Linked DNA regions of Homo sapiens: region 2 is linked to region 1. The links come from fine-mapping of genetic effects on gene expression. A gene starts in region 1. The other region holds a variant in brackets. All regions are shown on one strand. Distances are between the middles of the regions.

Region 1 (16,453 bases):
AAAAGTTATGTTTACACTGTTATACTGTAGCCTATTAGTTGTACAATAGCATTATGTCTAAAAAAATGTGCATACCTTAATTTTAAAATACTTTATTGCTAAAAAGTGTTAACAATCATCTGAGCCTTCCGCTAGCTGTAATCTTTTAACTGGTAGAGGGTCTTGCCTCAATGTTGATGGCTATTGACCAATCAGGGTGGTGGTTGCTGAAGGCTGTGGTGGCTGTGACAATTTCTTACAATAAGGCAATGAAGTTATCGACATCAGTGGATTCTTCCTTTCATGAAAGATCTCTCTGTGGCACACAATGCTGTTTGATAGCATTTTACCCACAGGAGAACTTTCAAAATGAGAGTCAATTCTCTCAAACTCTGCTGCTGTTTTAACAACTAAGTGTATGTAATATTCTTTATCATCTGTGGTCATTTCAACAATGTTCACAGCATCTTCACCAGAAGTAGATTACATCTCAAGAAAATACTGTCTTTGCTCATACATAAGAAGGAACTCCTAGTTCATTAAAGTCTTATCATAAAATTGCGATAATGTAGTCACATCTTCAGGCTCCATTCTAATTCTAGTTCTCTTACTAGTTCTTTTTTTTTTTTTTTTTTTTTTTTTTTTTGAGACGGAGTCTCGCTCTTTCGCCCAGGCTGGAGTGCAGTGTGGCGCATCTCGGCTTACCGCAAGCTCTGCCTCCTGGGTTCATGCCATTCTCCTGCCTCAGCCACCCGAGTGGCTGGGACTACAGGCGTCCGCCACCACGCCCGGCTAATTTTTTGCATTTTTAGTAGAGACGGGGTTTCACTGTGTTAGCCAGGATGGTCTCAATCTCCTGACCTCATGATCCGCCTGCCTCAGCCTCCCAAAGTGCTGGGATTATAGGCATGAGCCGCTGCGCCCTGCCCTCTTTTGCTATTTCTATCACATTTGCAGTTACATCCTCTATTGAAGTATTGCATCCCTCAAAGTCACCCATGAGAGCTGGAATCAACTTCTTCCAAACTCCTGTTAATGTTGATATTTTTACCTTCTCCCATTAATCACAAATCTTCTTGATGGAATCTAGGATGATGACTCTTTGCCCACATCCATCAGAGGAATCACTATCTATGGCAGCTATAGATTTACAAAACATTTCTCAAATAATAAGACTTGTAAGTCAAGATTACCCTTTGATCCACGGGCTGCAGAATAGATGCAAGCATGCAGGAAAACAGCATCAATCTCTTTGCACATCTCCATCAGAGCTCTTGGGTGACCAGGTGCCTTGTCAATCAACAGTAATATCTTGAAAGAAATATTTTTTTTCCTGAGCAGCAGGTCCCCACAGTGGGCTTAAAATATTCTGTAAATCATGCTGTAAACAGACGTGCTGTCATCCAGGCTTTGTTGTTACGTTTCTAGAGCACAGGCAGAGAAGTAGATGTAGCATAATTCCTAAGGACCCTGTGATTTTCAGTATAGTAATGAGCACTGGCTTCCACTTAAAGTCACCAGCTGCATTAGCCCTAACAAGAAAGTCAGCCTGTCTTTTGAAGATTTTAAGCCAAATATTGGCTTTTCCCCTCTAGCAATGAAAGTTCTAATGGCATCTTCTTACAATAGAAGGCTGTTTTATTTACACTGACAATCTATTGTTGGCCCTGCACAGTGGCTCATGCTTGTAGTCCCAGCACTTTGGGAGGCTGAGGTGGGAGGATCACTTGAGCCCAGGAGTTCGAGACCAGCTGGGGCAACATGACGAAATCCCGTCTCTACAAAAAAATACAAAAATTAGTAGGCCGTGGTGGTGTGTGCCTATAGTTCCAGCTACTTGGGGGGCTGAGGTGGGAGGATCGATTGAACCCAGGAGGTCCAGGCTGCAATTAGCCACGATCATGCCACTGCCCTCCAGCCTGTGTTACAGAGGGAGACCCTGTCTTAAAAAAGAAAGAAAGAAAGAAAGAAAGAAAGAAAGAAAGAAAGAAAGAAAGAAAGAAAGAAAGAAAGAAAGAAAAGAAAGAAAGAAAAAGAAAGAAAGACAGAAAGAAAGAAAATCTGCTGTTAGTGCAGCTACTTTCATCAATGATCTTAACTAGATCTTCTGGATCACTTGCTGTAGCTTCTCCATTAGCACCTGCTGCTTCACCTTGAAATTTTTTGTTGTAGAAACAGCCTTTTCCCTTAAACCTCATGAATCAACCTCTGAGAATCTCCAGCTTTTCTTCTGTAGCTTCTGCACTTCTCACAGTCTTCATAAAATTGATGAGAGTTAGGGCCTTACTCTGGATTAGGCTTTGGCTTAAGGGAATGTTGTGGCTGGTTTGATCTATCCAGACCACTCAAACTTTCTCCATATATCGGGGGAACCAGCCCCCAATATTTCAACGTACGTTCTTTTCTATTTTCCCTAAGTGTCAGCTGGTCTGAGAAATAAAGAGAAAGAGTACAAAGAGAGAAATTTTACAGCTGGGTCTCCAGGGGTGACATCACATATTGGTAGGACCGTGATGATGACCCCGAGCCACAAAACCAGCAAGTTTTTATTAGGGATTTTAAAAGGGGAGGGGGTGTATGAACAGGGAGTAGGTCACAAGGATCACATGCTTCAAAGGGCAATTAAGATCACAAGGCAAGGCAAAATTAGAATTACTGATGAGGGTCTATGTCCCGCTGTGCACATATTGTCTTGATAAACATCTTAACAGGAAACAGGGTTTGAGAGCAGAGAACCGGTCTGACTAGAATTTACCAGGCTGGAATTTCCCAATCCTAGTAAGCCTGAGGGTACTGCAGGAGGCCAGGGTGTATTTCAATCCTTATATCAACCGCATAAGACAGACACTCCCAGAGCAGCTGTCTATAGACTTCCCCCAGGAATGCATTCCTTCCCCAGGGTTATTCCTTGCTAGGAAAAGAATTCAGCGATATCTCTCCTACTCGCACATCCATTTATAGGCTTTCTGCAAGAAGGAAAATATGGCTCGATTCTGCCCAACCCCGCAGGCAGTCAAACCTTATGGTTATCTTCCCTATTTCCCTGAAAATTGCTGTTATTCTGTTCTTTTTTAAGGTACACTGATTTCATACTGTTCAAACACACATGTTTTACAATCAGTTTGTACAACAGTGGTCCTGAGGTGACGTACATTCTCAGCTTATGAAGATAACATGATTAAGAGATTAAAGTAAAGCCAGGCATAAGAAATTATAAGCGTATTATTAGGGAAGTGATAAATGTCCATGAAATCTTCACAATTTATGTTCTTCTGCCTCGGCTCCAGCTGGTCCCTTCATTCGGGGTCCCTGACTTCCCACAACATCCATATCAGCAATAGGGCTGTTTTGCTTTCTTATAATTTGTGTGTTCCATGGAGTGGCACTTTGAATTTTCTTCAGGAGCTTTTCCTTTGTATTGACAACTTAGCTGTTTGGCACAAGAGGCCTCTCTCAGCTTTCGAAATGCTTTTCTCACTAAGCTTAATCATTTCTAGCTTTTGATTTTGTTTTTGTTTTTTTTAGAGACAAGTCTCACTCTGTTGCCCAGGCTGGTGTGTAGTGGTGCAATCATAGCTCACTATAATCTGAAACTCATGGGCTCAAGTGATCCTCCTGCCTGGGCATCCCAAGTAGCTAGGACTACAGGTGCATCCCACCACAGCCAGCTAATTTTTAAAATTTTTTGTAGAGACAAGGTCTTGATACGTTGCCCAGGCTGGTCTTGAACTGCCGGCTTCATGTGATCTTCCCACCTCAGCCTCCCAAAGTTCTGGGATTACAGGCATAAGCCACTGTGCCCAGCCCTCTGGCTTTCGATTTTAAGTGAGAAACAGGTGACTCTTCCTTTCACATAAACACTTAGAGCCCATTCTATGGTTATTAACTGGCCTAATTTCAATATTTTTGTGTCTCAGGAAATAGTAAGACCCTAGGAGAGGGAGAGAGACAGGAGTATGGCTGGCTGGTGAAGCAGTCTGAACACACACCATATTTATTTATTTATTTTTTATCCTCGCCAAGCCGGCCAGCATGCACTGCCCAAGCCAGCAAGGCTCACACACCACATTTACAGATTAAGTTTGACTTTGTGGTGCCCCAAAACAATTATTATAGTAGTATTTGAAGATCACTGATCACAGATCACCATAATAAATATAATAATTTTAAAATTTGAAATATTGCAAGAATTCCCAAAATGTGACAGACACAAAGTGAACACATGCTATTGAAAAATACAGCACCAACAGACTTGCTCAATACAAGGTTGCTACAAACCTTCAATTTGTGGGAAAAAAAAAAAGGATTATCTGCAAAGCACAATAAAGTGAAGTACAATAAAACAAGGAATGCTTGTACAATGGCATGTATCCACCACTACAATATCATACGGAATCACAGTGTTGCTGCTCCAAACCTCTGTGCTCCCTCTATTTATCCCAACCTCCTTCCCTGTGCGACCTGTGGCTGTTCTCCAGCTACCATAGCAGAGTTGATTAGTTGGAACATAAATTTATGCCTTGCAAAGCCCAAAATTTAATTTCTGGTTCTTTACAGAAAAAGTTTGCTGACCACTAAGATATGGAAACAACCTAAGCACCATCAGCGGGTAAATGGATAAAGAAAATGTGGTATAGATACACAATGGGGTACTATTCAGCCTTAAAAAGGAAAATTCTGTCATCTTCGACAAACGAAGAAACCTGGAGGGCAGTATGCTAAGTGAAATAAGCCAGGTACGGAAAGAAAAATACTGCACAGTCTCACATTTGGGACATCAAAAAGTAGAGCTCTAGGAGTAGAAAGCAGAATAGTGGTTACCAGAGGCTAGGGATGCAGCCAGGGCAATTGGATGGGAGGGGGATATGTCAGTCAAAGGGTGCAAAGTTCCGGTTAGACAGGAGGAATAAGTTCCCAAGATCTATTGCACAGCAATGGTGACTATAGTTAGTAATTCCAGGCATGCTGGCTCACAACTGTAACTCCAGCACTTTGGGAGGCTGAGGCGGAAGGACTGCTTAAGCTCAGTAGTTCGAGACCAGCCTGGGCAATGAAGCAAGACCTTGTCTCTACCACTAAAACTAACAATAATAATAACCCAGGCATGGTGGTGTGTGCCTGTAGTCCCTGCTATTCAGGAGGCTGAGGCAGGAGGATCACTTGAGCCCAGGAGGTCAAGGCTGCAGTGAGCCATGATTGCACCACTGCACTCCAGCCTGGGTGACAGAGCGAGACCCTGTCTCAATGATAATAATAATAATAATAATAATAATAGTGTATTATATATTTTGAACTTCTTAAATGAGTAGATTTTAAATGTTCTCATTACAAAGAAATGATAAGTATGTGAGGTGATGGATATATTAATTAGCCTGACTTAATCATTCTACCATGTATACATGTATCATAACATCACATTGTACCTCGCAAATATGCAATTATTATTTGTCAATTAAAAATAAAATTAAAAAAGAAAGTTTGCTATTTGCTGACCCCTGGACTAGACAATCATTAAGGTTCCTTCCAGTTTCCAAAAGTGACTACCAGAATTGACTTACCATTAAAGACAATGTACCATATGTCCACACAAAAACTTGTACACAAATGTTCACAGTAGCATTATTCACTATACCCAAAAGATGGAAACAACTCAAATGTCCATCAACTAATGAGTGGATAAACAAAATGTGGTGTTTCATGCAATTCCTTTTTTGGCCATAAAAAGGAATGAAGTATTGAAACATGCTACAAGATGGATGAATCTTGAAAACACTATGATAAGTGGAAGAAGCTAGACATAAGAGGGTCTATATTGGATGATTCCATTTATATGAAACATCCAGAACAGGCAAATTCATAGAGACAGAAAATAGAAGAATAGCAGTTGTGGATGTTAAAGGGTGGGGGATGGGGAAGTGTTTCTTTTTGTAAGGTGAAGATGTTTTAAAATTAATTGTGGTAATTGTTGCACAAGTCTGTGAATAAGCTAAAATTAAATAAATAAGCTAAAACCACTGAATTATACTCTTTAAATAAGTTGTATATTAATAGTATGCAAATTGTACATCAGTAAGGATTTTGAAGAATTTATTAATTTTTTTAAGGCTCTGGCTCTGTTGCCCAGGCTGGCATGTTCTTGGTTCACTGCAGCCTCTCCGGCTTAAGCGATTCTCCCGCCTCAGTCTCCTCCTGAGTGGCTGGGTCCACAGGTATGTGCCACCACCATACCTGGCTAATTTATTTGTTTTCTTTTGGAGAGATAAGGCCTCCCTGTGTTGCCCAGGCTGATCCAAACTCCAGGGCTCAAGCGATCCTCCTGCCTTTCAAAGTGTTCAGATTACAGGCGTAAACCACCACGCCCGGCCAGGACGGAACTTTTCACTATACATCCTATTGTGCCTTTTGAACTTTTTTATGTTGAGAATGTGTGTGTGTGTGTGTGTGTGTGTGTGTGTGTAAGGGGGAAAAATGACATATAACGGAAGAATCTGGTTAAGAATTAGTTTTATCAATAACTCGGTAATGAGAAGAAATTTTTGTTTTTGTTTTTGTTTTGAGACAGTTTCTCTCTGTTGCTCAGGCTGGAGTGCAGTGGCGCAATCTTGGCTCACCGCAAGCTCCGCCTCCCGGGTTCACGCCATTCTGCTGCCTCAGCCTCCTTAGTAGTTGAGACTACAGGCGCCGCCACCACGCCCGGCTAATTATTTTGGATTTTTAGTAGAGACGAGGTTTCACTGTGTTAGCCAGGATGGTCTTGATCTCCTGACCTCGTGATCCGCCCACCTCGGCCTCCCAAAGTGCTGGGATTACGGGCGTGAGTCACCGCGCCCGGCCCAAAAATTTGTTTTTTAAAAAATGGCATTTGTCAGCAATTGGACATTTTTCACTTGTGCACACATTTTATTCCAAGATTTTGTAAACCTTGCATCGATTCAGAAGAGAATCTGGATTTATACAGCCTGTGAGTGAGAATGGTGTAAGTCTTGAGTGTGAGCTTTGTCCCAGATTTGTTTGGATTCTTAGGAAAACTAGGCATTAAAAGGATTTATACTGAGAAGAGCACAAGGGTTAAAAAAGGAAAACTCTGGTCTGAAAAAATGTTCTACGGAGGTTTAGCACAGATCTTAAAAAAGAGAGAGAGAAAAAAGTTCACATCCTTTGATCCAGTAATTTCAGTTACAAGAATCGTGTCCAGGATAAAAACAAACCAAAAACATAACTGAGGAAGAACAATGCAAAAATGTTCATTACAGAATGAATTCTAACAAAACAAAACAAAACAGGAAACGACTGATTAACGTTCAACATTAGGAGACTGGTTAATTACAATATAATTGTATACAATATAATTGTATAAAACACTTCAGTCATTCAAAATTATGTTTATAAAAACCTTGGTGACATGGGATAGTATAAGATGCAGGATTTTAAAAATTATGTTTACCATGACCTTAACTCTATTTTTAAGAGTCAGGGTTGTTAGAAAATACCAAAAAGTTAGTAGTGGTGCCTGTGGGTATCAGCATTTGGGGGATTTTTTTTTCCTATTTCCCTATACTAATATACTTTATAAATGTTCTATAATGGCATTTATCAGGACCTGGACATTTTTCGCTTACACACACATTTTATTCCAAGATTCTGTAAACTGTGCATCGATTCAGAAGAGAACCTGTATTTATACAGCCTGCTAGTCAGAATGGTGAAAGCGTGTATTATTTTTACAATTAGGGAAAAAAATCTAAACTGAAGAAAGAACGCGTCACTGACGTTGTCTCATGCCACTACTTAAGTTTACAGAAAAGATACTGTAACCTTCAAGAGCGGAACTGCTGTCCCGCGAGTTGAAGCACCTGATTCCAAGGGGAATCAAGCGAGCCGCACACTCTGCCAGCTTTCCAGGCAGCGCGCTCAGCAGCGGGACTATGCCGGGCCCGGCCCAGTCCGCATTCCCAAACCTCCCCCAGCTTTCAAAGAGGAACCTACTGACCCAGACCGCCCCCATACGGTCGGCTGAAATTAAGGATTAGGGAAACGTCACATTCCTTTCTTTCCAACCCAGACCTCAAAAGACACTGACCCTGCCATTCTCGACCTCCCCTAACGCCTGTCCCTTAGAGCCCACCCGGCAAACCAAGGTCCTTGCCAGGCGATCGCGGGCGCGCCCCGAGTGCAGAGCGGGCTCCAAGCCCAGCCGCCCGGTTCTGCGCGGCGCGCTCCCAGGTCCCTAGCAAGGAAGACCGCGGGAGCCCGCAAAGGGAGGGTACGGCCGGCGGAGCCTCTCAAAGCGCCCCACCTCCAGGCAGAGGCCGCGCGCTCGGCGCTTACCTGGGCCTCCAGCGGATGCTGCCATGGTGACGACGCCCGCCGTCCGCGCAGGCGCCCAGGCTGGCGCCCCTGCTAACCGGGCACTGGTGGCAGGGAAATTCGACTCCACAAACCACAGGCCTCGGCGGGGGAAGAGCCCGGCGGGCGCCAGCGAAGCGGAACCAAACGGAGCCGCGGCACGCAGGCGCAAAGGCTGGCGTTCGAGGTTCGTTTACGCGCCGCTTCGCCGTGCAGGTGGTGGCGAAGCGCTCCTCCGAAAGGTTTCGGAAGCTGGTGGTAGCTCTGAAGATAACGCTGCGTTAGGGCATACTGCGGCGGAGGATGGAACTCCGATTGAAAGCAGTTGCTGGAGTGGAGCACGAATTTCAACAGTTGGGTATATTTTCTTTTAAATGTTAGTAATATCCTAAAAGGGTGTGGAATCATTACTGATAAAAATCAGTGTTTCTGGCCGGGCACGGTGGCTCAGGCCTGTACTCCCAGCACTTTGGGAGGTCGAGGTGGGCGGATCACTTGAGGTCAGGAATTCGAGACCATCCTGGCCAACATGGTTAAAACCCGTCCTTACTGAAAATTTAAAAAATTATCCTGGCGTGGTGGCGCGCGCCTGTAATCCCAGCTACTCGGGAGGCTGAGGCACAAGAATGGCTTGAACCGGAGAGGTGGAGGTTGCAGAGAGCCGAGATCGCTCCACTGCGCTCCGGTCTGTGCGATAGAGCTAGACTGTCAAATAAATAAATAAATAAATAAATAAGTTTTTGTACAAAGTTACCGAGCTGATAACTTGAAGTTTTCTCTCCCCTTCTGTCTCTCTACCAGTGTTCACTCAGAAAACGCTCTCAGCAACTGGGTCCTCCCATCCACTGTCTTTCTAGCCCTCCTTAACTCATTACTTTTTGAAGCCAAACTAGTGATCAGAATTAACAACAAAGCTCTGCCATTTTCAGCTTCTGTGACCAAAAAACTCAATCTGCCAGTGGTAGAGTTAGGATAACTAACATCACCTGACACGTAATACAAAGGGGAGTTATTCTTGCCCAGCCTTTCAGATAAAATATTTTTCATCACTCCAAAGCAATCACTCTCCATTTACCCCCTTCCTACCCCCAGGCAACAACTCATCTACTTTCTGTCTCATGAATTTGCCTATTCTGGAATTTCATGTAAATAGAATCACAGACTGTATGTATGATCTTTGTAACTGGCTTCTTTCACTTAGCATGTTTTCAAAATTCACCCATGTTTTAGCATGTATCAGTACTTCCTTCCTTCTTATGCTGGAATAAATTCCAGTTTGTAAATACCACATTTTATGTGTGTCCATTCAACAGCTGAAGGACATTCGGGTTGTTTCTACATTTTGTCTTTTATGAATGCTGCTGCTGTGAACATTCATGGACAAGTTTTGTGTGGACGTATATGAATACATTCCTGTGTGCATATCTGTGTACATACCTAGGAGTGGAACTACTTGTTCATATAGTAACTGTTTAACTGTGTGAGGAACTGCCAGTTTTGCAAATCAGCTGTACCATCTTTCATTCCCACCAGCAATGTATGAAGATTCCAATTTCCCCACATCCTTACCAGTCAGTACTTGTTGTTATGTTTTTTAAATTATAGCCATCCTAGTAGATATGAAGTACTACCTCATTATCTTGATTTGTAGTTCCCTACTAATAATATTGAGCATATTTTCAGGTGCTATCGGTCATTTATATATTTCCTTTGGAGAAATGTCTTCTCAAATCCTGTGCTCATTTCAATTGTGAGAATTCTTTATATAGTCTCAATACAAGTCCCTTAACAGGTAATTTGCAAATATTTGCAATATTTTCTCCCGTTGTGCAGATTGTCTTTTCACTTTCTTGATGGCATTGATTGCAGTACAGGTCTTTTTTAAAAAACTTGTTTTTCTTTTTTTTTAGATGAAGTCTCACTCTGTTCCCCCAGGCTGGAGTGCAGTGGCACGATCTCGGCTCACTGCAACCTCCACCTCCCGGGTTCAAGCGATTCTCCTGCCTCAGCCTCCTGAGTAGCTGGGATTACAAGCACGCACCACCACGCCTGGCTAATTTTTGTATTTTTAGTAGAGACAGGATTTCACCATGTTGGCCAGGCTGGTCTCGAACTTCTGACCTCAAGTGATCCACCCGCCTCAGCCTCCCAAAGTGCTGGGATTACAGGCGTGAGCCACTGTGCCCGGCTTTTTTTTTTTTTCATTTTTAAAATTTTTAACTTCAGGGGTCCAAGTGCAGGTTTGTTACACAGGTAAACTGTATCATAGGGGTTTGTTGTACAGGTTGTTTCATCACCCAGGTATTAATCCTAGTACCCATTCATTGTTTCTCCTGCTCTCCCTCCTCCCACCCTCCACCCTCCAAAAGTCCCAGTGTGTTGTTCCCCACTCTGTGTCCATGTGTCTCATCATTTAGCTCCCACTTATAAGTAACAGCATGCAGTATTTGGTTTCTGTTCCTGCATCAGTTTGCTAAGTTTTTATGACATATTGGTCACAATATTACAATATTTTCATATATTTTACAATAACTGACTCAAAATTCCTCTTCACTGTCCTTATTTTTAGAGCCGCATGTTGAAGTGTGAGGCGTGAAAGGGTATGTCTGATATTTGCTTTAAAATGCTCCAGCAAAGAAATTAAGGGATGGATGAAGCAAAAGAGGTAAGTCTTGATAGTGTTGACTCAGAGGATTGTTGTAGGCTGGGTATATAGATTTTCATCCTACTATTTCCTTTACTTCTGAGTGTTTGGAAATTTTATGGTAAAAATAAGTCTAATTACTTTTTTGGCACAAAAAAGGTTTTGTAAGTTAAGGGTACATGCTGCACTGGGGAAAGAATATAACGATTAGAATGTGAGACACAGGCCCCAACTTGAGTCTGGGGCTGCTTTTGGTGACATCTAAACATGAATAAAGGCCAGGCATGGTGGCTCACACATGTAATCCCAGTACTTTGGGAGGCTGAGGCAGGAGGAGACCAGGACTTTGAGACCAGCCTGGACAACATAGTGAGACCCATCTCTACGAAAAAATAAAAAACAAGCCAGGTGTGTCGGCATGTGCCTGTAGTATCAGCTAATCAGGAGGCTAAGGTGGGAGGATTGCTTGAGCCCAGGAACTCAAGGCTGCAGTGAGCCATGATCACACCACTGCATTCCACCTGGGCCGCAGAGTGAGACTCTGTCTCAAAATCAAAACAAAGCACTGCATGAATACAGCTTACCTCATTTTCAGAGTCCTAATAGCTAGAAAGTTTTCCCTCAAATTCCAATTTAGTTTCTAGCTGTGTGACTTTGGACAGATTACTCTCTCTCTGAACTTGGTATCTAGTCTATGAAATGCAATAATAAATCACAGGGGAACTGGGTGCAGTGGCACGCACTTGTAGGCTCAGCTACCCAGGAGGCTGAGGCAGGAGGATGGGTTAAGAGCCTAAGTTCAAGGCTGTAGTGTGCCATGACTGTGCCTGTGAATAGCCACTGCACCCTAGGCCTGGGCAATACAATGAGACCCTGTCTCATAAATAAATAAATAAATAAATAAATTTAAAAATAAATTACAGGGTAATATTCCTTGTTCTGAAGTTTGCTTTGTCTGATAGCAAAATAACCACTCCAGCTTTGTCCTTTTCTTCTTCTTTTTAGTGTTTGCATGGAATATCTTTTTCCATCCTTTTACTTTTTAACCTGCATGTACCATTGTATCATAAGTGGCTTGTATAGATAGCATATAAATTAGGTTTTAAAAAAATCCATCTGGCCAGGCATGGTGGCTCATGCCTGTAATTCCAGTCCTTTGGGAGGCCAAGACAGGCAGATCAGTTGAGGACAGGAGTTCAAGACTATCCTGGACAAAATGGTGAAACTCCATCTCTAATAAAAACAAAGAAAAAATTAGCCAGATGTGGACATGCCTGTAATCCCAGCTACTCAGGAGGCTGAAGCAGGAGAATCACTTGAACCTGGGAGGTGGAGGTTACAGTGAGCCGGGATTGTGCCACTGCACTCCAGCCTGGGTGACAGAATAAATGAGACTTGATCCAAAAAAAAAAAAAAAAATCAATTGCCATATTTAGACCATTTACATTTAATGTAATTGTTATTTATTTTTATTTTTAGGGACAGGGTCTTGCTCAGTGGCCCAGGCTGGAGTACAGCGGTATGATCACAGCTCACTGCAGCCTCAAACTACTGGGCTCAAATGATCTCCCACCTCAGCCTCCTGAGTAGCCAGGACTATAGGCATGCACTACCATGGTTGGCTAATTCTTTTAAGTTTTATGTAGATACGGGGCCTCACTACATTGCCCAGTCTGATCTTGAACTCCTGGCCTCAAGTGATCTTCCTGCTTCAGCCTCCTAAAGTGTTGGGATTATGGGCATTAGCCACCACACCTGGCCTAGTGTAATTTTTGATACAGCTGGATTTAGGTCTACCATTTTAGCATTAATTTTTCTTGTTGATCCCTTATTTCTTTTACACTTGTTTTCCTTGCTGGCTTTATTTTGAATTATTTAAAATTCCACTTTATATGTCGGCTTTTTAAACATATCTCCTTGCATAGTTTTTTAAAATGGTTGCTCTAGAGATGATCATTACATACCAAACTTTTTGTAACCTACTATAATGTTTTACCACTTTAAGTGAAATTTAGAAAACTTACCATATAGGTTCTGTCACTGTCCCCTTGGTTAGTATGCAGTTTTCATCTGTATTACATCTATATGCATTGAAAATCCCAAAAGATGATGTTACAATTTTTTTATTTCAGCAGTTACATATATTTTAACAAACATGTAAGTCTATTTGGTTTATCCAGAGATTTGCCATTTTGGTTGCTCTTCCTTCTTTGCAATCATTTTCCTTCCCCATGAACTTCCTTTACCATTTCTGTTAAAGGAGGACTACTAGCAATGAATTATTTTAGCTTTCCTTCTTCTGACAATGTCTTTATTTCAGCCAGGTATGGTGGCTCATGCCTCTAATCTCAGCACTTTGGGAGGCCGAAGCAGGCAGATCACCTGAGGTCAGGAGTTTGAGACCATCCTGACCAACATGGTGAAACTCGTCTCTACTACAAACATAAAAAAATTAGCTGGGCGTGGTACCACGCACCTGTAATCCCAGCTACTCCTCTGGAGGCTCAGACAGGAGAACTGCTTGAACCGGGAGGCGGAGGTTGCAGTGAGCTGAGATCGCACCAATCCATTCCAGCCTGGGCAACAGAGTGAGACTCCATCTCATAAAAAAAAAAAAAGTAAAGAAAAAAAAGAAAATGTCTTTATTTCATTTTCTTTCCTAAAGAATATATTTGCTGGATAAAGGATTCTGTGTTGACAGTTTTGTTGCTTTTTAAAAGCACTTTATAAATGTTGCTCCATGGTTTCTGATGAGAAATCTGCCATCACTGAAATCTTTGGTTCTCCTATATACAAAGTGTTGTTTTCTTCCAGTTGTTTTCAAAGTATTTTCTTTACAGTTGGTTTCATCACTTTGATTATGACGTGCCTGGGTGTGGTTTTCCTTTTTGGGATTTGCTGTGCCAGCAGACCGGCTTTAAATAGAATGCTATGTAAATGTATGTGAATATTTGTTTTTTGCCAGATGTTTGGAAGTTTTTAGCTATTATTTCTTCAGATATTTTTTTCTTCCAATTGTTCTTTCTGGGCTCCTAAGACATGAATATTAGACTGTTTCATATTGTCCCACAGATCCCCAAAGGTCTTCTCATTTTTTTCACTTTTTTCTCTGTCATTCAGACTAGATAATTTCTGCTCATGTATCTTCAAATTTACTGACTCTTCCCTCAGTCATCTTCATTGTGTTGAGACCTTCCAGTAAATTTTGTTATTGTATTTTCAGTTCTACAATTTCCACTTGTTTCTTTTTATAGCTTCTATGCTGAGACTTTTAGCTTTCCATTTATTTCAACAGTGTTTCCCTTTATATATTTCCTTTGGAGAAATGTCTTCTTTGTGTAGCATGATTAAAATAACTAGTTTAACGGCCAGGTGTGCTGGCTTATGCCTGTAATCCCAGCACTTTGGGAGGCCCAGGCAGGCAGATCACTTGAGGTCAGGAGTTTGAGACCAGCCTGGCCAACGTGGTGAAACTCTGTCTCTATTAAAAATACAAAAAATTATCTAGGCGTGGTGGTACACACCTGTAGTCACAGCTACTCAGGAGGCTGAGACAGGAGAATCACTTGCACCCTGGGGGTGGAGGTTGCAGTGAGCCAAGATTGTATCACTGCACTCTAGCCTGGGTGATAGAGACTGTCTCAAAAATAAATAAAAAAAATAAAATAACTAGTTTTAAGTCTTTTTCTGATAATTCTGACATTTGGGTAACCTTAGAGTTGGCTCTTGTTCATTGTCTTTTCCCTAGAGAGTTGCTTAGGTTTCACAAGTTCTTTGTCCAATCATTTTGGGTTGTTTCTGGGATATATTTGGAATATTATGATATTCTCTATCCTGTTTAAATCTTCATAAGAATGTTTTTGTTTTGTTTTGTTTTAGCAGACCATCAATTCAGTTAAGTTTCAGAGCACACATCCTGGCCACTTTTTTTGGTGGCTGTGGTTCCAATGTTAGTTTTCACTGCCTTTGTTAAGCTGTTCTTTGCCCCAGTTGTGCACCATCTAGTGGCCAATCTGAAACTTGGACAGTGGCCTACACTGTAATTCAGTGTTCAGAACCTTTGCTCAGCTGCTTCTGGTTAGTTTCACACATACACAGCTTGTGAGATGATCCCAGGATTTTATTGACAGATTTAAGGGTTCCTTTTCTTCAGTTCCCTCCTATTTGTGATCTTACCTATACTCTGGTTTCTAGAACCCCATTCTTGGTTTTTGGCTAGAAAGTCAGGGCGTTAGCCTCCCCATTGCCAGTGTTCTGCCCTGCAATGTCTGCCACTAGTGCACCAGGGGGAAGAGAAGAGTGATACCTCTTTACTGCTGCGGGATTGATGTAGAGCAAGGAAAGTCCAGAAGGTTCCAAGTCATTACCCATGGTTCTCCTGGTGGGGCGGTGGGTCTTACTGCATCTTTCCTGAGGCTCTCTTAGAATACTGCAATTAAATTAAAAAGGGTTTTGTCCCATAGCCTCCAACCTCCTTTCTGGTCCTCTGACTAGAAACAGCAAATTGTTCCTTGGACTATTTTTCTCTCTGTCAGCTAGCATTTCCAGTTTTCCTGTTAAATGTCTTTTTTCTTTTTCCTTTTTTTTGAGACAAGGTTTTGCTCTGTTGCACGATCACAGCTCACTGGAGCCTTAACCTCCTGGGCTCAAGTGATCCTCCCACCTCAGCCCCCGTGAAGCTGGGACCACAAGTATGAGCCACCACACCTGGCAAAATTTTTTTAATTTTGCAGAGACAGTGTCTCCCTGTGTTGCTCACTCTGGTCTCAACCTGAGCTCGAGTGATCCTCCTGCCTTGGCCTCCCAAAGTGCTCGATTACAGGTGTGAGCCACTGCACCTGGCCTTATTATGTGTCTATGTGTGGATTTTCTAGTTTATTCTGTTTGGGATTTGTCTGGCTTCTAGAATGTGTGGGGTCATGTCTTTCATCAGTTTTTAAAATTCTGCATTCTATCTAAGTATTTGCTCTGTCCTATTCTTGCCTCTCCTCTCACAGCTAATGAAGCACTTAGGATTTTTCACTGTATTCTCTACAGGTCTTCTGTTTTTTTTTCCAGCTGTTTCTCCCATGGTGCACTGTGAATAGTTTCTCCTGAGTTATCTTCCAGTTTATAAACTACCCCAATTGGCTACATTCTATTACATCTATTTACTGAGTTTTAAAGTGCAGTTTTTATGTATATTCTTGTAATGTTTATATTCAGTTCTTTTCCAGATTAGCTCCACAACTTTTTATCGTATAGTTTCCCATTTCCTGCAAGTACATTCACACACCTTATTTCCTTAAACAAAGAAAACAAATCTAATACCTATATCTGTGAGTTTGTTTTCATTGCTTCAAGTAATTCTTGCCTCTGGAATCTAGTTTCCTTATATGACTACTTTTTACTATGTGTTACTAGACATATTTGAAAAGTAATTTGAGGCCTACAATGAAATTACTTTTCCATGAAAAGTATTTACATTTTATTTTCTCTGTCACC
Region 2 (16,453 bases), 25 kb before region 1:
CCTGTTTTTTAAAAAAAAAAAAAAAAAAAAAAAAAGGCCAGGTGCAGTGGCTCATGCCTGTAATCCCAGCACTTTGGGAGGCCAAGGTGGGTGGATCACTGGAGGTCAGGAGTTTGAGACCAGCCTGGCCAACATGGTGAAACCCCATCTCTACTAAAAAACAATACAAAAATTAGCTGGGCGTGGTGGCGCCTGTAATCCCAGCTATTCAAGAGGTTGATGCACGAGAATCACTTGAACCTGGGAACCTGGGAGGTGGAGGTTGCAGTAAGCTGAGATCACACCACTGCACTCCAGCCTGGGCAACAGAGCAAGACTCTATTTAAAAAAAAAAAAAACCACATGGAAAACACACTTGCTTGTTTCTAAATAGCTTGAAAAAAAAGTATCTATGTATATATAGAGAATATATATTTTTATATATAAATAAACTATATACATAATAAATAAATATATATATATATACACACACATATATATATATGCACACACTTTTTTTTTTTTTTTGAGACAGAGTCTCACTCTGTTGCCCAGGCTGGAGTACAGTGGCACGATCTTGGCTCACTGCAACCTACGCCTCCTGGGTTCAAGTGATTCTCCTGCCTCAGCCTCCCGAGTAGCTGAGACTACAGGCACACACTACCATGCCTGGCTAACTTTTGTATTTTTAGTAGAGACGGGGTTTCGTCATGCTGGCCAGGCTGGTCTCAAACTCCTGACTTCAGGTGATCCGCCCACCTTGGCCTCCCGAAGTGTGGTGATTACAGGCATGAGCCACCACGCCCGGCCAGAATATATCTATTTTAAATAACTCTATACTCTATCAAAAGCAAGTTGTAAAAAATATTGGTCAGTCAGTAAAGGAACATTTTACAGAAATCTTAAGTGAATATGTTAGTTTAGCAGCTAATTTCCTGATAAAAAGAAGGGACGTGTTCCACTTTCCTTTAAAATCTGGAAAATTATATTTTTAAAAATTAGAAAAAGAGATTGCTAACAGAAGCTTTACTTATATGACTATAAATGTGTGAACTCTCTTAAAATCTGCAGCGTCACCAGTGAACATGGCATCTATCTGAAAGAGCAGATGGAAGGGTCTGCACATACCTGAAGGGTCAGGCCTTTTTTTCCATCAGGCTTAGATTTTGTAGAATGGGTTTTGGTCTTTGTATTAAAGATGTTATTTTTATACCTGGAGGATATTTTAATTTGACCAAGAAATACATTATTAGAATTATTACCTTCATTGACTTTCTCAGGATGCCATCCTGTTGTCCAACCCAGGGAAAACGTCACGTCTGGAAAGAAGGATATCACGGTGTCTAAAAATGGTTTTGCATCTATTACTTTGCTATTTCCATTTGGACCAGGAAGAATATCGGCATTAATCCATACAGGACGCTTCAGATGCCTCTTCACATTTTCCAAGAGCATCATGGATGGTTCTACAACTGCCAGACTAAAAACATAATTTGTTGTCAATGAGATAGATTCTTTAGGTAAAGTAAAAAGAAGTTCTTTTAGACTAGTGGTCTCAATGTTCTCAAATTCATAATCAAAATACAATAATGTCTGGGTTAAATAAAATCAAAGATCGCATAGCACCAGAGGGAAAAGCTAACATATGCCATATCTCTAAATGTTGAACTGTGCTTATTATTCATGAATATACCTTAAAGAGTCTATAAATATATGAATAGTGGTACTACTTGTGGACAAAATAGAGGTTTCAAAACTCCATATTAGGATCACTTGGTGTGAAAACAGTTTTTTAAAAGACACAAATATTCACTCGTTCCAGAATGTATAAATAAGATAAATGAAATACACTTAATAACCTGTAAATTCACATTTATGAAATACCCAAGTGGATCCAAGCCCTGTATCTCTAATTCAGGCTCATGACCCTGGAGAATAAAAGTAGCTTCTTTCCCTTATGTATTCTTGGGTGAGTTTGGATACATAAACAATTCTAAAAATGACTGTAAAATATAAAATTATAGTATTTCCTTCAAGTTTCTGTTTCATTTTTCTTCTTTTATTGTAAGAACCTTTTCTGAAAATTAGAAATACGTATATTTTAGTTCAAATTTAAAAAGCAACTTCAATCTTTTTACTTCCCTACAGATATTCTAGCTGATAACTACAGACTTTGAAACAATAAGGTTTTAATCAGCTTCCATAATTTTTACTTGCCTATGTTCATTTATAAGAAAATTACCTTGTAGTGAATATCATAATGGGAGGCTATGAATTTTGGAGATGGATACTGGAGGGGAGAACACTCACCGACCCCTCCTCACATTTCCCTCTCTCTTCCTAAGAGACGGCAGTACTTCTGTCTATGCTTCTACCTCTCTTGTCTCCACTCCTTTTGGGCCTCCTACTCTAAGAGAAGAAATTTAAATAATCTCATTATTTATTGGGTTATGTTTACCAGTGAGCAAGGATACTATGTACTAAAACCAGAGGAACCCAGGCTCTATCCCTTAGCTTCTAGCCCCTTTCCCTCTGCTGCCATGTGGTACGCTTCCTTCTCACTCTTCTGCCCCTGAATTGGGGAGGGCCTAGATTTTAGTGGATTAATAAACCTTAATGCTGGACTCTGCAGACATTAATTTAGATGTTGTCATTTGTCTCTTTTAAATTCTCCCTGCCTTGCCCTGTGTCAACACCATGTTAAAACCACAATTCTGAGATCCAACACTGTACTTCCTACAAAATTCCATTTTTCGTAGCAAGCAACTTGTACCTGTGACTCCAAAGCTTGCTTGTCTGTCAGTCCCATAGCAGCAGCCAAGTCCCCATGAGGTGCTGCTCTTCATGGGTGGAGTAAGGAAAAACCTTGAACTAATCCATGCATGCCTCCTGCCAAGCTCCTCTTTTTCCAAAAAGGACTCTGATTTCTTAAGAAATCTGGTGTCTTATGGAAGCTGGGTTAAATACTAATTTCCAGTTTACATTTCAGGAGGGAGCCTTTTAGGCTTTCTCAATTTAGTAAGTTGACATAGAGTGAGTGGTTTAAGATTGATTCTTCATCTGATAATATCCAGTTTCTTTTTTTTTTTTTTTTTTTCTTTGAGATGGAGTTTCGCCCTGTCACCCAGGCTGGAGTGCAACGGTGCGATCTCTGCTCACCGTAACCTCTGCATCCCGGGTTCAAGCCATTCTCCTGCCTCTGCCTCCCAAGTAGCTGGGACTATAGGCATGCGCCACCACACCCAGCTAATTTTTGTATTTTCAGTAGAGATGGGGTTTCACCATGTTGGCCAGGCTGGTCTTGAACTCCTGACCTCAAGTGATCCACCTGCCTCGGCCTCCCAAAGTGCTGGGATTACAGGCATGAGCCACCGCACCTGGCCAATATCCAGTTTCAAACAGCGTATTCTCCCACAAATCGAAATTCCACCAGTGTTTACTAAGTGCCTACTACATGCGAAGCACTGTGCAGTTAAACATAAGGAACTATGACAAAGAACACAGTGAAGCAAGAATTTAGTACATTTATTCCATTTTATATGTAAATATTTTAATTATCACTAATGTAGACGAAGGATAATGATATTTTCCCTTACCAGAAACTTAAAATCTGCGGTTAAACAAATTTAAAACCTCACTAAAGAACCAAAAACTTTTTGTTGTTGTAGTTCTTATTTTCTAAAACTTGACGAAGTAATTCTAAAGTTCTTCTGGAAGAAAAGGTGTAACATTTTGTGGGAGAAAAAAGAACTGAGAACAAACTTTCCTAAACAACAAAATAAAATCTACAGTAGTCCACCTTATCTGCAGGGAATATGTTCCAAGACCTCCAAGGGATGCCTGAAACTACCTAGCACCCAACCCTATATGTAGTCTGTTTTTTTTCCCTACACATACCTATCTCTGATAAAGTGTAATTTATAAATTAGTCACAGTAAGAGATTAGCAACATAAACTAGTAATAAAATAGAACAATTATAGCAATATACTATAATAAAAGTTATGTGAATGTGGTCTCTCTCTCTCTCTCAAAATAGCATACTGTACCGTACTCACCCTTCTTCTTGTGATCTGTCAATCTGATAACTGTGACGGCTATTAAGTGACTAACAGGTGGGCAGCATATATGGTGTGGATACGCTGGACGAAGGGAAGGGATGAGTCACACCCCAGCTGGGATGGAATAGGAAAGTACCAGATTTCACCACACTGCTCAGAATGGTGTGTAATTTAAAACTTATTGTTTATTTCTCAAATTTTCCATTTAACACTTTTAGACCATGGTGTACTGCAGGTTACTGAAACTGCAGATAACAGAGGACTACTGTATACTACAAGAAATAACAGACCAAGCCTGGAAGACTCAATATTGCATGTATTATAAAATGACACATCCTTCTAAATTAATCTATAAATTCCATGTGATTCTAATTTAAAATACAGTGGCCAACATTCTCAATTCTTACATATATTAGTACTAAGTTTCCATAAGGAAGTACCAAAGCTTCACCAAGATGATCATCCGAAGAGGAAAGTCCTGGTGAGACTACTACTGAAAATTGCTCCTTGGTGGTATTTATTTAAGTCTCCTGAAAAGAATATAAACTTAGTTATTATAGAATATATTTTTTTCCTAAAAAGTTATTTGTAAATCAAACTTCTAAATATCATACCCTGTTTTCCTATTAATTTCATTTAAAAATTGGGAATGATAAAATAAATATCGTACTTAAAATTGTAACAAACTATATAAAATTGCATTGTTTAAGGGAAAATAATTCTTAGCTAAAACGCTGAAGAGCTTGCTGAGACTCCAGATAAAATTTAAAAATATAATACTTTTTTTTTGAGATGGCGTTTCACTCTTGTTGCCCAGGCTGGAGTGCAATGGCATGATCTCGGCTCACTGCAACCTCCGCTTCCCGGGTCCAAGTGATTCTCCTGCCTCAGCCTTCCGAATAGCTGGGATTACAGGCATGTGCCACCACGTCCAGCTAATTTTGTATTTTTAGTAGAAACGGGGTTTCTCCATGTTGGTCAGGCTGGTCTAGAACTCCTGACCTCAGGTGATTCGCCCACCTTGGCCTACCAAAGTGCTGGGATTATAGTCATGAGCCACTGCGCCCAGCCAAAATATAATACTTTTTATTTGTGTACCAAACAAAGTAACTTAGAAGCACAAAACAAGAACTACTAAAACTTAACTAACAGGTCATTCAGCTGCTCTTACAAAGGGAGTGAGTGCAGCATTCTGGTTAAAAGTGTGAACTCTCCAGCCAGGCTGACAGCTCTCTAGTTCCACTAACAACTACGTGACAAGCGGGCTCCTCAGCCCCTCCATCTCCATTGCCTCATCCGGAAAATGAGAATAACAGCAATAACCTACCTCTTAGGATTGTTACGAGAATTTAATGAAAAATACATGCAATGCTTTTACAACAGTGTCTGACATGTAATAGGTGTTCACATACCTATTAGTTTATATTGAATCCCCTTCAAATATGTTATGACTTTAAAAAAAACTTGCAAAATCTTTGTTTCAGAGGCTCAGCGCTTTTGTGCTAGCTGCTAGCACTTAAGAATGAATGAGCTGATCTGACTGGTGAGAAGCCAAAGAATATGTCCCAGGAAACAATTCAAGGGGCAATAGTAAACATGAAAAACTGAGCACGTGACATCAAGGAGATCTAAAAGTTTAAGCCATCAAGCACTAAAGATCAAATGCTTTATTTCATGATATAGAGAACACTGGACTGGCTTCAGGAGAATTAGGATCTGGTTGTAGCTTACCTGTCAAAGCTTACCTGTTACCCTCAGGTACATCACTTAACCTCTCTGGAACTAAGTTTCTTTGTCAATAAAATGAAATTGAACCATTGATAACTCAAAAAGTTTATGATTTTTTATTATTTATTTATTTATTTATTTTTTTGAGACAGAGTTTTGCTCTTGTTGCCGAGGCTGGAGTGCCGTGGCGCAATCTCAACTCACTGCAACCTCCACCTCCTGGGTTCAAGAGGTTCTCCTGCCTCAGCCTCCCGAGTAGCTGAATTACAGGTGCGCACCACCATGCCTGGCTAATTTTCTGTATTTTTAGTAGAGAAGGGGTTTCACCATGTTGGCCAGGCTGGTCTCAAACTCCTAACCTCAGGTGATCCACCCGCCTTGGCCTCCCAAAGTGCTGGGATTACAAGCGTGAGCCACCGTGCCCGGTCGAAAAAAAAGTTTATGATCTTAAGATAGTTCTTTAATTCACAAGACCCTGTCAATCCAAACTCCTGTATATCAAGATTTTATACATCTATTCATTCACTAACGGTATAATAAGGTTTACTGGTATATTTTGCCCCATAACAAATGGTTAGAGTCATCTTAAGAATCCTACAAGATTCCAAGTCCTTATTAATTTCTTGAGATAATTCTATTTAAAAATATTACTCAGAGATGAAGTAGGCTTACTGCCAATCCTAGATTTCAATAGCAGCTGCCTTCATAAGCTTTACAGTGTGCTTCTGAAGTGTTGCTGTATATTTCTGGCTTTCTTTATCATTTTTACACTGCTAAAATACTACAAAAGTAAAATTTCCTGTGATGGCCACAGTGAAGGAAATGACAGCTTACTCTTGCTCTTCAGTATTAATGCCTCCAAATATTATTATTATTATTATTATTATTATTATTATTATTATTATTATTTGAGAGGGAGTTTCACTCTTGTAGCCCAGGCTGGAATTCAATGGCGTGATCTCGGCTCACTGCAACCTCCGCCTCCCAGGTTCAAGCAATTCTCCTGCCTCAGCCTCCCCAGTAGCTGTGATTACAGGCGCCCACCACCATGCTTGGCTAATTTTTGTATTTTTAGTAGAGGTGGCGTTTCGCCATTTTGGTCAGGCTGGTCTCAAACTCCTGACCTCGGTTGATTCGCCCACCTCAGCCTCCCAAAGTGCTGGAATTACAGGCTGAAGCCACTGTGCCCGGCTGCCTCCAAGCATTATTTTTAAGAAACACTTTGGTTATTGGAGAATTCTAAATAATTCCCTTTACAAATATAATAACATAAATCAAATAGGGTATGCATTAACTAGCTCAATGAATTTCTCCCAGCTCTCTCTCTCCTGGGTTACTTTTTAACATATGTAGCATTTTTAATTTACCTTTCTGTTGTCACGATGGTCACTTATGATAAATTCCTTTATAAAAATTAATCTAACTTTTGCCTTTAAGGGTCTCCAAAAAACAATTTTAGTAAATAACTCAGTGGGTCTTAGGTTCATTTAGGTTCAGTCCTGAAATATATTAGAGTCTACAATTCCATTTTCAGTTTGGATAACAT[T/A]AAAAAAAATAGGTAGTCAGGCACAGCTATTACTTTTTTCCCAGAAAATTGAACGTGTTTATACAAATACCTTTTGAAATCCAGCTTGATGCCTTTATTGCTTTTCATAACTTCAGTCAGCCACTCCTGTAGAGTATTATCACTGTTTGTTTCAGGGGGATGGGCCATAATTGGCTGGCTGTGTTCTGATCCATCACTTGGAAGAAGGACATCAGCCTCTATCATGTGAGCAGTACCTGTCCAAATAAAAGAACTTCAGTTAATGCTAAGAAAACAGGGCACAGAACTACAGGAGGCACCATGTTCAGTATCCTTTTGAGGAAGATAAAAAAAAAGGAAAGAAAAGTAACACTCAGTGAGCGATTATCCCATGCCAGGCAGTATACAAGGTCCGTACACATTCTCCCTATTTTTTAGATTAGCAAACAGATGTCAAGAAGTTAAATGACTTTCCCTAAGTTACACAGATCTTAAGCTGTTGACATACAAATTCTGAATTTCTTTCTAATACCAGCAAAGTACATACATAATGAAAGGCTTAATAAGTATTTGCTGAAGCTTTCTGGGAATAAAAATCGTACTTTTATCTTCTCACTCCTCAAATTAGAAATTATGGATATTCATTGCTCATGTTTGAAAATCTACATTAAAAATTCACTTCTTTGACTTACGGTTTAGTTACTGCTTAAAAGCATACATCCTTTGAACAGGTAAGGAGCTTCAGCAGACATGGTGTAAGTATGTTCAGCAGGCTGTGACAGACTGACTCCAAGATGGCTGCCAACAACTCCTCCAGGACATGCATACCGCTCTTCCCATCAACATCCTCTTCCCTGCCTCTTCAGCTGGGCAGGTCTTGTGATGGGTTGGGGCCGTAATTCCCCAAATGCCATAATCTCGAATTTTGAAATCCCAGAAAATCAAAATCCCTAAAGTCTAAAATCCCCAAAATCACAATCCCAAAAGATCAAAATCCTGAAAATATTGGAAAAAATAATTTTAAAAATTCTTTAAAATGCATTTACTTACATTTTTTTAAATTTCTTTTTTTTTTTTTTTAGAAACAGGGTCTTACCCTGTCATCCAGGCTGATGCAGTAGCAGCATTATACTTCACCGAAGCTTTGACCTCCTGAGCTCAAGCAATCCTCCCGCCTCAGCTTCCTGAGTAGCTAGGACTACAGGTGTGTGCCACCATGCCCAGCTGATTTTTTTAAAAAATATCTGTTGTAGAGACAGGGTCTCACTATGTTGCCCAGGCTGGTCGTGAACTCTTGGGCTCAAGTAATCTTGCTTTGGCCTCCTCAAGTGCTGGGATTACAGGCATGAGCCACTGTGCCAATCCTGTTCATTTTTAAAAGGGCATTTATTTGAGAAACCTATGAAAACATGGCAGAACACTTCAGAGGCCACTTTACACAATAAAATAGGCAATAATAACACACATTTTTGCAAGCATAAACACCCAGGTATATTAATCAGTTCAGAGATATAACATGAGCAAATGAACTGTAATCATAAAGAAATAGCTTAAATAACTGCAGTCATCTGAAATAACTTGATGAACAACCTAAGTCTTTTGACAAGATCAGTCAAAAACTGTGATGGGTTGCCATCATACACATAGTCACCCAAAGAACTGTGATCTTGAGAAATTTTATCTTTCACAAATGCAGATGTACAAATGGATATCTCTTCATTTCCTGTGAAAGTTTCAACGTTTTTATCAATAAGCGCAATGGTTACACACAAAGTCAATGTTGTGAAAATGCAGCTCTGTGGAGTCAAATTTGAAAAAAATGCATAAAACAAATTAGAACACTCTAAGAGTCTTTATACAATCTATACCTCCAATACCAGAAACAATGCAAAGATGAATTATGTAGCATAGTGAATTATAAAAAACAATGCTGACCATTTAAAATAGTGGAAATGGCCAAGCATGGTGGCTCACGCTTATAATCCTAGCACTTTGGGAGGCTGAGGCAGGCAGATCACCTGAGGTCAGGAGTTTGAGACCAACCTGGCCAACATGGAGAAACCCCGTATCCACTAAAAACTCAAAATTTAGCCAAGTGTGGTGGCAGGCGCCTGTAATCCCAGCTACTCAGGAGGCTGAGGCAGGAGAATCACTTGAACCCAGGAGGCGGAAGTTGCAGTGAGCTGAGATTGTGCCACTGCACTCCAGCCTGGCCAACAGAGCAAGACTCCTGTCTCAAAAAAAAATTTTTTTTAAAGATAAATAATAAAATAGTGGGCAAAAACGAAAAAGAAGCTTTGACACATGAAAAAAGTGGGATAGATGACAGGTAATCGCACAAGTGTACTCCATAAGAGGTGGCCAACCTGCACTGCAATAAATAGTTGCTTTCTTCTTTCCTTTTTTTTTTTTTTTTTTTTTTTTTGAGACAGAGTCTCACTCTATTGCAACCTGAAACTCTTGGGCTCCAGGGATCCTCCTGCCTCAGCCTCCTGAGTAGCCAGGACTACAAGCATGCACCACCACACCCTGCTAATTTTTCTAAATTTTTAGTAGAGATGAGGTCTCACTGTGTTGCCCAGGTTGGTCTCAAACTCCTGGACTCAAATGATTCTCTCACCTCTGCCTCTCAAAGTGCTAAGATTCCAGGTGAGAGCCACCACACCCGGCCACATTTTTTCTTTTAGGGCATGAGTCTCCTTGGAGGATACATTCAGATTCATTTTCTATGTGGCGCTGTTTTTTCTCAACTTCTTCTATGATTTGATATGCACCTGCATGAGTATTCCCTATTAAACTTTCCGATCTTCTGTGCCATGTTTCTATGCTGTTTTGGGTATGTGGAAATCCATTTCACATGCACTTATATGCAGATCACAAATTTGGTGGAAACAATACTGATGGTCAAACAGCAACTCCAGGGCATGTCTTCTTATCCGACCATGCACGTCATTATCTTCAAACCAGTCAGTAATTTCTCTGGCTTCTTCATGCAAATGCAGCTTTAATTTACTAAAAGCTCCTAGAATTTCATCAGCGGGAAGGAATGCCAATACAGATCCATAAGGCATTTTAAACTGAAGTTTTTGTCACTGCCATCTCACGTGACCAATCCACTCATCTGAGTTTTCTGTTAAAGGCATCAGGCTGAATGAAAAAGACAAACTTTACTGGTAACAACTTGAAATTCACTCTTATAAGCCTTGATTGCACCTAATTCTAAATCTATCATTATAGTTTGGGGATTCAATTAGATATTAAGGATTTTAGGCTATGGATTTTGATCTTTCAGCATTTCAACACTTGGGATATGGCATTTGGGATTGTGTCTTTTGGGATTATGATTGGCACCACTTGTGATCTGCTTTGACCAACAGAAGGTAGTGGAAATAAAACTGTCAGTTCTAGGCCTAGCCTTTAAAACTGCTGGCACCTTCAGTTTTCTTACTCTTGAAATCCAGCCACCATGTAAAGACATTCATGCAAGATTACCGAAGACTGAGAGACCACATAGAGAGAGAGAAGCCACGTGGAGGAGAACTAAGACTTCCTATCTGACAGAGAGCATTAAGGCCACTGACATATGAGTGAGGTCATTTTAGAATTTCCAGGCCCAGCTGGGCACCCAGCTGAATGCAGCTACATGAACGTCCTAAGCCCGTACTACATGCAACAGAACCACCAGCTGACCCATAAAATCATCAGAAAAAAATACAGCACTGCTATTTTAAGTCACTCATTTTTGGGTATTCTATTACACAGCAATAGATAAAAAGCAATAGGTAGCTGGAAGTGGAGTGTTGCCATATCAAAAACCTGAAACATGTGGCATTGGCTTTGTGACCTGGTGGAGGCTAAGAAAGGCAAGGAGGGAACTGTTCATGGAAGCTGGAAGAGCAGTGCAGAAATTCTTACTGGAAGCTTGAGAACAATAAGCTCATTTTATTGTTTTCCATAGTGGTAAAACTTCTGGCAACACTGTCACTGTAGCAACTGGTGGAAGATAGACAGGATACCCAGTGAACCTGTGTATTTGGCTAAAGAGGTTTCCAGGGGAAATGGTGAAAGTGGCAACTGGCTTCTTTTAACTGCTTATAATAAAGAATGAGAAGAAAGAGCTAAGCTAAATAATTAACGTTTCAGATTTTCAGCAGCATATAGAGAAAATATTTCCAAATCAGGACTTTCTGAATTTGAAAATAAAACTGTTTCTTATTCCTGTCCTCTCCAGCTGGCAAGAGATTCTCAAAGTAAGAGACAGTCTCGGGCCAAAATTTAAATCTAGGGTGTTGCCTGTCTTAGTCTGTGTTATACTGTGATGACAGAATAACACAGACTGGGTAATTTATAATAAACAGACATTTATTGGCTCACCATTCTGGAGGCTGGGAAATCCAATATCAAAGTGCTGATACTTAAAGAGGGCCTTCTCACTGCATTTTCATCTGGTGGAAGGCGGAGCGAGAGAACACCCACTTTCCAAAGTCCTTTAAATATGGCATTAAACCCACCCATGAAGGTGGACCCCTCATGGCCTAATCACCTCGCAGCAGTGTTACACTGGCAATTAAATTTCAACATGAAGCCAGAGTGGTGGCTTACTCCTGTAATCCCAGCACTTTGGGAGCCAGAGGCAGGAGGATCACTTGAGCATAGGAGTTCAAGACCAGCCTGGGCAACATAGCGAGACCTCATCTCTACTGGAAAAAAAAAAAAATTAGCCAGGCATGCTGGTGGCACACGCCTGTAGTCCCAGCTACTTAGAAGGCTGAGGAGGGAGAATCGCTTAAGCCTAAGAGGTCAAGGCTGTAGTGAGCTGTGATTGCGTCACTGCACTACGGCCTGGGTGACAGAGTGAGACGTTGTCTCTTAAAAAAAAAAATTTCAACATGAGTTTTGGATGGAACAAACATTCAAACCATAGCACCAGTAAAACATGGCCTCAGTGTCAATATCAAGCCAAGGGTACAACCATATGACCCTTTATTAAGCCCTCAGAAAGAAGGTGCCTCATGTAGCCACATAGCTAGATATGGAATCTTCTGGAATCTTAAGGGTGTTGTCCACTGCACCTTAACTTGCATACCAAAGTAGAGAGAGGTCTACCTCAAAGAGACGGGGGTGTGGCTTCTGATTAAATTTAATATATTAAAAGCCCACTATATTTTTAAGGGAGATATAACTACTTGGACACAAAAGGACAGAGATAGTTCAAAACGAAAAGAGGTCTGTGGGCTCCCAAATTTCTACAGGCAGGGAACAGGCTAAGAAAGCTACTCAGCTGCAAATATAAGCCAATTTCCAAAAAGCACACAAAGAGATGCTCACCAGCATTAGTCTTTAGGGGATGCAAATCTACACCACAATGAGATACCAATTCATATACACTTAGCTGGCTATAATTAAAAAAAAAAAGTACAATAACAAGTGTTGGCAAAGATGTGGAGAAACTAGAACCCTTATCCACACTGCTAGGAGGAATGTAAAAAGGAGCAGGCACTTTGGAAAAGTTTGGCAGTTCTTTAAAAAGTTAAACATATAGTTACCATGTGACCCAGGAATTCTACTCCTAGACATATAAGCAAGAGAACTGAAAACACATGTCTACAAAAACACCTGTATGTGAATGCTCATAGCAGCAGTAATCATAGTAGCAAAAAAGGGAAACAACCAATGTCTACCAGTTGATGAATGGATAAACAAAATGTGGTATATCTACATACAAAAATGATTCAGTCATAAAAAGGAATAAAGAACTGATACACACTAGAAAACAGCTGAACTTTGAAAACATACTAATTGAAGAAGCCAGTCACAAAAGGCCACATAGGAAGGTGCTTCCCTGAATTTTGATTCTGGAGTCAGGAAAAGTCTTTTTGAGGAAGTGACAATTCAGCCGATACCAAAGGATCAGCTTAAGGGGTTAGCAAGGCAGAGTGTGGGGAAAAGAGCTTTCCAGGAAAGAATGTGTGTGACAGCCCAAGGAGGAGGGAGCGTAGCCATGCAAGGCACTGCTGTGAGGCCAGTGTGGGAATTTCTAGGAATGTGAAAACACTGTGAAGGTGGACTTGGAGACACAGGCCAGTCTGTGCAGGCCCTTCAGGTTATTGAAGTAGTTTGAAGATGCCAATAAATAGCACCCCTTTCTCCAAATGGATCTGTTTTTTGTTTGTTTGTTTTGAGACAGAGTCTCGTTCTGTCGCCCAGGCTGGAATGCAGTGGCATGATCTCAGCTCACTGCAGCCTCTGTCTCCTGGGTTCAAGCAATTCTCCTGCCTGAGCCTCCCAAGTAGCTGGGATTACAGGCATGCACCACCATGCCCAGCTAATTTTTGTATTTTTAGTAGAGACGGGGTTTCTCCATGTTGCCCAGGCTGGTCTCAAACTCCTGGTCTCAAGCAATCCACCTGCCTTGGCCTCCCAAAGTGCTGGGATTATAGGCGTGAACCACCACACCTGGCCTCCAAGTGGATCTTGAGAAATAAAATAGCCAAGTTAAGTAGACAGGGATCAAAGTATACTTGTATTACCTCTAAAGCTAGGTCAGAGGACACAGCTTAGTTGAGAACTAAATAAGCCTGTGCCTGCTACCTGCTAACTGCCACAGTCACCCTCTAGTCCAAATCTTGGAACAGCCCCTTTGAAGCAAAGTTCTAACAAATACAAATATCCAGATGGCTGCTTCCCAGTGGAAGAGAAGAGCTCACTCCCTTGTCCAGCACATTTTTTTTTTTTTTTTTTTGAGATGGAGTCTCACCCTGTTACCCAGGCTGGAGTGCAGTGGCATGATCTTGGCTCACTGCAACCTCTGCTTCCTGGGTTCAAGCAATTCTCCTGCCTCAGCCTCCCAAATAGCTGGGACTACAGGCATGCACCACCATGCACAGCTAATTTTTGTATTTTTAGTAGAGACGGAGGTTCACCATGTTGGCCAGGCTGGTCTCGACCTCCCAAAGTGCTGGGAGTACAGGCGTGAGCCACCTTGCTTGGCCTAGTGCATTTGATAGATTAGCTCCACCCAGTCAAGAACTACAAATCAAAACAATCTCTCAACCTCTATGAGAGAAATAAACAGTGAGGCAAGAGGTCAAAGCCTTTAGGGAAAAAAATCTCTCCTCTTGGAAACCAGAGCAGTAGAACCAAACATGTTTCTATCTAGCAATTATATTAAAGATTTTAAATGGAACACCATTTGAGACCAATAAAGAGGCTTGATTTATGTTTAAATATACCACTTTGGATGCTGGGTGGAAAATAAAATAGACAGGGGCAAGTGTGGAAGCAGGGAAAATAATCTATCCAATTAGGATGGACTCATAGATCTACTGGATGCTTCTGGCGGCAAATAAATAGAAATTCAGATTCAAGCTAGTAGATTTATCATCTCAAATAACTAAAAGTCCAGGGGTCAGGTGAGCTTTAAGTGTGGTACAATCAGCAGCTCAGTGATGTTATTGTGATCTTTATGTCTCTTTTCTTCACTGTCCTTGGTGTCGTCTTCATCGTAAGGCTAATTTCATCTCATGATTTTAAGACAGCTACCAATAATCACTAGGGCTACATATTTTCATGTTCACATACTTCAATTTTAAGATATAAAACTTCTTTGGTAATTATAATTACTTTACTTGAGTCTAATTGAGCCCAGTTTGATCACTTGCCCACCATGGGAGCAATATGAATCATCAGGAAAACTTCAAGTGCTGATTAACTTATTGTAATGCACCCCTGGAGCTACAAATGGAACCAGTTTCCATATGCTTGTATGGAGCAGAAATGGATACCTTAATAAAAGTAAAGTTCTTGGCCGGGCGTGGTGGCTCACACCTGTAATCCCAGCACTTCGCGAGGCCAAGGCAGGCGGATCATGAGGTCAGGAGTTCGAGACCAGTCTGGCCAACACGGTGAAATCTCGTCTCTACAAAAAATACAAAAAATTAGCCGGGTGTGGTGGTGTGAGCCTGTAATCCCAGCTACTCGGGAGGCTGAAGCAGGAGAATCACGTGAATACAGGAGGCAGAGGTTGCAGTGAGCCGAGATTGTGCCATTTCCCTCCAGCCCAGATGACAGTGCGAGACTCTGTCTCAAAAAAAAAAAAAAAAAAAAAAAAATTCTTATAGGAAGAAAGAAAAGGGGACTGGTGATGTAGTAAGAACTCAATGGATGTGGCTGGGTGCGGTGGCTCACGCCTGTAATCCCAGCAAGTTAGGAGGCCGAGGCGGGCAGATCACGAGGTCAGGAGATCGAGACCATCCTGGCTAACACAGTGAAACCCCGTCTCTACTAAAAATACAAAAAATTAGCCAGGCGTGATGGCGGGTGCCTGCAGTCCCAGCTACTTGGGAGGCTGAGGCAGGAGAATGGTGTGAACCCAGGAGGCGGAGCTTGCAGTGAGCCGAGATCGTGCCACTGCACTCCAGCCTGGGTGACAGAGTGAGACTCTGTCTCAAAAAAGAAAAAAAAAAAGAACTCAATGGATGTTTGCTATGTCTCTCTTCTCTAAGCTATACCATATTTAGGATCTTTTAATTACAGTGAGGCAAAGCATAAAATAACAAAATGGCTGGGTGTGGTGCTCACACCTGTAATCCCAGCACTTTGGGAGGCTGAGGCAGGAGGACTGCTTGCAGCCAGGAGTTTGGGACCAGACTCTCTACAAAAAATAAAAATAAAGAAATAAACACCAAAACACCAAGACCAATCAAAGAGTTTTATACTCCTTTTATTCTCTATCAAATGCAATTCTAAGCAATGTCCAGGTACTATCCAAACAGCTTCCAGCCCTCTGCCAAAGGTGGAATTCTTCAACCATGTGAATAGTGCTGAGTCCTGATGTTTGTGTGGCTTATCTCGCCAGGGGGAGGGCAGATACAGAGAAGTTGTTCTTTCACCCTATGGCCAAACTTCTGCAAGGACAACAGGGCAAGTGAATTTGCAGAAAGATAGATGATCTAGTCTTTTATTATTTTCCCAGGATGAAGTTGGGGAAGGGGGTTGTAGGTCTCCTTTATCAGTGTGGTTATAAAGGGGCACAAAAGCTTGGAATCTTTCATTTAAGAGTGATAGTCTAATCCCAGCACTTTGGGAGGCCAAGGAGGGCAGATCAGGAGATCAGGAGATGGAGACCATCCTAGCCAACATGGTGAAACCCCATCTCTACTA

Evidence for each region. PIP is the estimated chance that this variant, and not a neighbour inherited with it, causes the effect.
Region 2: its variant is fine-mapped to the expression of FAM151B in whole blood (TOPMed, PIP above 0.99).

The regions. Positions count from the first base shown.
Region 1 is chr5:80,480,003-80,496,455 of GRCh38, reverse strand. FAM151B (family with sequence similarity 151 member B) reads right to left here and starts at 8,356. Exons shown (of 6, transcript NM_205548.3): 1 at 8,308-8,356. The coding sequence starts at 8,332. ZFYVE16 (zinc finger FYVE-type containing 16) reads right to left here. Exons shown (of 19, transcript NM_001284236.3): 19 at 13,077-16,453. It overlaps FAM151B-DT (FAM151B divergent transcript), which reads left to right and starts at 8,510. Exons shown (of 3, transcript NR_172938.1): 1 at 8,510-8,678; 2 at 10,895-10,990; 3 at 13,290-13,656. RefSeq lists enhancers at 2,346-2,932, 7,751-8,250, 8,251-8,752 and silencers at 7,792-8,086, 14,889-14,998.
Region 2 is chr5:80,504,699-80,521,151 of GRCh38, reverse strand. It overlaps FAM151B (family with sequence similarity 151 member B), which reads right to left. Exons shown (of 6, transcript NM_205548.3): 3 at 7,383-7,548; 4 at 1,242-1,459. Among named protein-coding and RNA genes, the nearest start is that of FAM151B, 25 kb to the right of the region's middle. RefSeq lists enhancers at 7,402-8,601, 13,541-14,041. The variant T/A (reference allele first, on the strand shown) is at 7,313.